Linked DNA regions of Homo sapiens. The protein of the gene in region 2 interacts with the protein of the main gene of each other region in a pairwise test. Each region holds a gene or a part of one and is shown on either strand. Other genes may lie near its edges.

Region 1 (3,833 bases), on a different chromosome or scaffold from region 2:
CTTTCCTTTTTTTTTTTTTTTTTTGAGACAGAGTCTCATTCTGTCACAAAGGCTGGAGTGCAGTGGTGCAAACAGCTCACTGCGCAAACACAGCTCACTGCAGCCTCGACCTCCAGGGCTCAAGTGATCCTCAGCCTTCCATGTAGCTGGGATTATAGGCATTAGCCACTGTGCCCGGCCTAAACAGATGCTTTCTAAGTATATGTCTTTTACTATTATTTCAGTAAGAAAAATGAAACAGAAGAATTTTGTTTTATTAGAATAAAAAATTAAATGCAAAAATGTAATTTTTAACTTTAAAATGATTCAGTCTAATTAATACAGGTAAACATTTATGAATGTACTTAGGAATTAACCAATGAATAATTTTCAAATTATAGCTATTAAGACAAAAAGGCGAATTGACTCAAATCTTAAAATTTTACTGTACTTAAGTCAAAGCAAAAAAAGTACCATCTTAGGTTTTTCTTCCTTTAGTGTGAAGAGGCGTTTCCACCAACCCACAGCTCTGCGTCGAGTTTTTACTAGATTGCTGCAAATTTCATGGAATCTTTGCTGTTGTTCAGTGGTCCTAGAAAAGAAATTTGCCTTTTGCTATAAACAAATCGTTACAGTAGACAAAAACATGACACCCTGTTCAATTTAAGAGCTATCTTCTAAAGAAAATAAAAATAAAAACAATGTTTCACCATTATCTTATGTAGGTGAAAAAATCCTTCCACCATTAAGACACCTTTTATAGCACAGGAGTAAGTATTTACATAAACTATGTGTGTGAGAGAGAGAGTGTGTGTGTGTGTGCGTGTGATAAAGAAAGGATCATCTCTGGCTCTGAAGCCACATTTATTTAATGGTAGTAAAAGACTCATGACTTCTATGGGCCATAAAGAAATCAGTATAAATTTGATTTTGCTATTCCTAAATATTCTTTAGATCCTAGTAAATGCTGCACTATACCTACCAGAATCCCACCGAACAACTGTATTTGAACACTCCTTAGTAAGATACTAACTACTGGCATTTAACACATAACACCCCCAACTGGGCTTCATACATCTGATGACAAGGCAGCAATAAACAGCTCAAATCTAAATTCTTCTTTGTAAATTTATCCCTAGGGAGGGAAAATATAATCAACAAACAACACAGCAGTAAAAATCCAACAAGAGACCCTCCAAGAAAACCTTTTATATTTATAATGTTTTTCTTGGTTCTGATTTTTTTAATTGCCTTTGCACTGTCTTCGCTACACAGCTATAATGGCTGCTATTATTGCCCTGTGCTGAGGGATGTGTTGCCTTCTCTTCTCTAGCCCTCATCTCTGTAAAACTGCAGTGATAGATAAAGTACAAGGATTTCTGCTGAGCCCTGGAACTTCTTTTCAACAATGAGATGTTATTTCTTGCCCATGGTCAAGGCTAGATTGTGGCTATGCAAAAGAGTATTCTTTCTTCCTTGTAAGATCAAAAAATAAACAAAATCTGCTCTATCAATAACTGAGTCACATCACGAAACTATCAGTGGTTATTTCTGCAAACTTTCCTCTAGGAGTTATAAATTAGCAGACTGGAATGTTATCTGGCTAATAAGGCCAAGGTCAGTGATTTATTTCCTTTGCTAACTCTGTTATACTGCACATTCAGAAACTTGCCCAAAAGAGCCAACAACATTGATTCATTACTGCAAGTGAAAAACAATTTGGACAGTTCCTAACACTAATCCATTCTGCTGTTGGGGGAAACACCTTTAAATATTGTCAATTATATCATAATTTAAGCAAACTTTGAATTTGTTCTTAAAGATCCATAAGGTACACATTTAAAATTCTTATATTTACAGAATTATTTTGCAATTTGCTATCCTCTGAGATACAAACAACCAAAGGCACAAGTAGAATACTAACCAAATAAAATAAACAGCCAAGGATAGAATAGCAGCTGAGAAGAAAATATCTATTCCAACTTCTATTTTGGCTGATTATTTGAATCAAAACTCAACATGCTAGAGAAAGTTAAAATACTTTTAATATGATCCTTATCCACTTAACTATATCTGAGGAGTTCATAAGCAACCTCATGGTATAAATAGGCCGGGCACGGTGGCTCACGCCTGTAATCTCAGCACTTTGGGAGGCCGAGGCGGGCGGATCACAAGGTCAGGAGATCGAGACCATCCTGGCTAACATGGTGAAACCCCGTCTCTACTAAAAATAAAAAAAAAAAAAATTAGCCAGGTGTGGTGGTGGGCACCTGTAGTCCCAGCTACTCGGGAGGCTGAGGCAAGAGAATGGCATGAACCTGGGAGGTGGAGCATGCAGTGAGCCAAGAGCGTACTGCACTCCAGCCTGGGCAACAGAGCGAGCCTCCATCTCAAAAAAAAAAAAAAAAAAGAGAATGGTATAAATAAAATCAGCAACCCATGTGTATACAGCTTGAACCTCTTCGGAAACACTTGGTATTCACTTTGTTAACTGCCATTCCACTGCCTCAGTGTCTCAGTATCTCAGCCTTAACACAAGATCAATCTTAAAAGTCAAAATATTTCACAGTACTTTACAGGGCCTGCCACAGTAGGCATTTAATAAATAATTGCTAAATGAATGTGAATGAAAATCTGCCAGTTTCCTTTTCTGTATTCATTCAAAAATAATTTGTGAAGTTATTATACTATCCTAAATATCAATGGAAATGTAAAAATGTATATGTGCATTTACCATAAAAGAACTATGGAGTACAGAAAATTCATAGTTTATATTCAAATCAGTTACAATATTCTTCACATAAAAGCAATAAATCTAATGCTTAGGTGTCTGATGGTTAGACAATTATCTCTGCTTATTTACAGCATACTAATCACAGCCACCAAGTTCAGTAACTACACAAAAATGAGACTGCCAAATCATTATGCTACCTACCATTTATTGGAGCCAAAAATTCTAGGCGCTAGAATGGGAACAAGGTAGTCAGCCAAGCACAAAAACATAACAAAACAGGAAACGCCGGACAGAACAGATGGATCTAGATAGTAGATAATCCTGTTAAAAAAATTAATAAAGGTTAGAAAAACATAGTCATTATTATTCCTAACTAAACATGTCTAACTTAACTATTCACTTAACTATTCACCGCCTCTCAGAGATATTTGCCATTTTTCTTCTAATTTTCTCACAAGTGGCTTTCCAGAGGCTTTGTGACATGCTGATATCATAGCTGCAGTGGTTAAGTATATATCAATGGACAAAAGCTCTTTGGAGTTCTCAGCACTTTTTTAAGAGTTTAGGGAGGTGGGGGACTAGGGGAGGGATAGCATTAGGAGAAATACCTAATGTAGATGAAGGGTTGATGGGTGCAGCAAACCACCATGGCACATGTATATATACCTATGTAACAAACCTGTACATTCTACACATGTTTCCCAGAACTTAAAGTATAATAACAAAAAAAGAGTTTAAGTGTCTGGAGGACAAAAAGTTTGCGAGTCACTGATTTACTCAAGTGCTTTAGGTTACCAAGTTTACAGAAGTACTACAAATTCTGGAAACTAGAAGTGCTTATGAGAAACATTCTTTATGGGTTCTTTATGGGTTATATATTACAGAAGACTTAAGGCACTCCCACAAACAGAAGCTATATATTAAAAAGTCTTTATTAATAAGAAGCACAACCCATAGTAATCTAATAGCTCACTTACAGAAACACCAAAGAAACCACACCCATGATGGCAGGTGGAAACCAGGCTCTTTCCCATCGGAGGACTTTATCAGCCATCAGCATCACTTCTCCCCATCCTTGCAGCTGTTCTTCCAGACTTGCAGTCTCTGCAGCCTAAATACC
Region 2 (2,885 bases):
TTCCTGCTTTCAAGAGGACTGAAAGCAACAATATTCCATAGGACAAAGAGTTCTTGATAACACCACTACAACCCCCCCGAGATTTTACTACTCTTCTCCTCCTCTGGAAATAGAAACACACTGAAGCTGGGGCCGCACACAGGTAGAGCTAAGTGTGCACTCTGGTCTAATGCAAACACTGACAGAAGTTCAGGTGAGGTCCTTTTCCCCCTTGCTTGGGAATACTGATGCTGCTGATGAAGTGAATACCTCAGAAATCTATTACCTCACCTCTAACATCTTCTCAAGTGAAAAACAGGAACTTTTCACTCGATAAGAAATTCCAGTATACTGGTATCAGTTTCCCAATATCTACTTTATGGGAAGACACTTTAATAGTTCCTACATGTAGTTACCACCAGCAGTATCATTTTTGAAGGTAAAGAAGGTTACTCCAATGGATAGAAAAATCTGTCTTTTTTCCATGCATTAAAACTGGGGCCTTGACCAGCCCCGTTTTTGCAAATAAAGTTTTATTGGAACACAGTCTAACCTATTTATTTGTATTATCTATAACAGTTTTCATTCAGTAAAGTTCAGTAGTTGCAACTGACACAGCTGGCGGCTCACAAAGCCTAAAATATCTACTATCTGGCCCTTTAAGAAACCCAAGCCCTGCATTAAAATATTACAATGCTACAGTAAGTAACATTTCATTTGAAAGAAAACTAAATGAGAATACAAAAACACAAATGACATGCTTGCTCTGATTCAGGCACTTTCAAGATCATTGTTTATTTATTACTTCAGATAAAAAGATAGTATACATATTAGGGAATCCCTTAAAATTCAACTCTAGAGTTATACACCATCTAGTACTTTTGCAATGAATGTTAACAACAACAAAAAAAATCTCTAAACACCTGAAAGCCCCACTATTAACATGGACTATGGTAATAAAAAATTTTGACATTTAATTTGTTCAACATATAGTATTTACATTATGAAACCAATGGTGATGATACAATAAAGTGATAAAGAAATAGTAAAAATAAACTTTAAAAAGCAAAGGTTTATAGTCTGACAATGCTAATTATCCTAATTGTATATAAAAAATTAAAACATAGAGCTTTCTGTTACAAAATTCTTAATCCTCTGGGTTGTAATCATTACTTGCTACCAATTTACATGCAACATCTGCTAGGACTGACATTTGATTTTTTTCCCCAAGAATGTGTGAGTAGATAAATGACATTTCAGAGCAGATATTAATTTACTTGTGGACAGAAAAAGAAACTCAAGATTGGTACTGGTCACAAGCCTCTTCCCAATAGAAATTATAAAAACAGTAAGATAAAATTTAAAAAAAATCTAACAAGGGGATGCATAGGCAAAGAGTACCATAAATGGCACAGCTCAAAAAATCCCAGGACCAATCAGACACACATCTTTTCTCTCTCCTTCAGCGACAAGAGGTCGATTTTGCCATCAAATAACCATGATTGAAGCAAGCGAGGGGCACCAGGTGTACAACTGATTAGATCTTGCAAAATACTAAGATGGGAGCAGGGGTGGCCAGAAGAAGGGGTAATTTATATATAATTCAAACTATATACAGCATAAATGGAATGCAGCCCATCCCAAACTGGCTCTGTGAAACAATTGGACCTTTATAGTTAAAATTATAACAAGTGTAATAATACAATAGATTTACATGGGAAGCAAAATCCAAGGGACATTTTATATTAAGTATTTACTGTGCTGTTTCAATTTAAAAATAATTTTGCTAAGTATACATCTCAACTGAAGTCTATGTAAAAAATGTCCTAATAGATACAGATATTTACCTTTGGTGAGTTGAAGGCCTTTTTGTGACTTCTGTCTGAACTGTAGGCAGAATGCTAGATGTACATGCACATATGGAGAAACTCAAGCTGAGGTCATCCAAAAGCTGTGCGTATGAGGAGGCTGGAGGTACTTTGAAAGTCAAAGTAGACCAGAAACCCAAAACAGGTAACAGTGAGGATGGCAACAGGGAATGGAATGCCAATATGGCAGTAAAACTTTTTTTAAAAACAGAAAGAGGAAGGCCTCTCGTACCAGCAGAATCCTGTACACGTACAAAAAAGAAAAAGCCACCCACCATTTTGTAAAACAGAAGCCAATTATAGTGTGGGAAAGTACAAATTACAGAAAACCAGAAGTCAACAGAAGAAAAACTACTGGTTTACTTGAGAGAAAGGAGAATGGTTCACCCCGAGCAGAGTTACTTGGTGAACGCCGCCACCACCGCCCACAGAACCTCATTGGTGTTGGCCTTCAGACATTCCACTTCAGGGTCTAAGTCGAGAAGCTGCCGCACTCTCTTGGTAGCCAAATCATACTGCTCGTCCAGAAGAGGAGCAAAAGCATTCTCCAGGACGTCCGAGGCATGAGCCAGGTAAATGAGGGCCAGCAAGCGCCTGTCCATGCGGTGAGGGTCATTCACCCATTTGTCAAGAACGGCTTCCTGTACTTTCTTGATGAGGCGCTGCTTAATGTTGTTATTGGTGAGGGGATGTGTTGTCATGTCAAAAAGTAGGAAGTTCTGTTTCTCTGTTGTCAATACACCCTTTTCCACCAGGTTTTTAGCTAATCGTTCCCGTACATTTCTTAACTGATAATGCAATTTTAATGGATTCCATGTCTCACCTAAACAAAAGATTTCAGAAGTTAGAAATGATGAGTATTATCTGCTAATTTTGCAAAAATTTTGTACTATTAAACAGTAAAATCTGATTTTGCCCCAAGAAAAACAGAAGAAAATCTGCCATGTTTTTCTCCCTAACTAGACCATGAACCCCTTAAGCCTAGCCAGACCTTTGGATTCTAAGCACCCAGCACATCCTCAGCCACAGGAGTCACTC

Evidence for each region.
Region 1: the proteins of GOLPH3 (region 2) and ARL6IP1 interact in binary tests that used the Homo sapiens proteins (3 or more experiments, as listed by UniProt).

The regions. Positions count from the first base shown.
Region 1 is NC_000016.10:18,795,011-18,798,843, forward strand, and holds part of ARL6IP1 (ADP-ribosylation factor-like protein 6-interacting protein 1), read right to left. Parts: intron 3,825-3,833; coding exon 3,691-3,824; intron 3,035-3,690; coding exon 2,915-3,034; intron 572-2,914; coding exon 454-571; intron 1-453. UniProt on the Homo sapiens protein: Positively regulates SLC1A1/EAAC1-mediated glutamate transport by increasing its affinity for glutamate in a PKC activity-dependent manner.
Region 2 is NC_000005.10:32,123,967-32,126,851, forward strand, and holds the end of GOLPH3 (Golgi phosphoprotein 3), read right to left. Parts: intron 2,671-2,885; coding exon 2,246-2,670; 3' UTR 750-2,245; downstream 1-749. UniProt on the Homo sapiens protein: Phosphatidylinositol-4-phosphate-binding protein that links Golgi membranes to the cytoskeleton and may participate in the tensile force required for vesicle budding from the Golgi.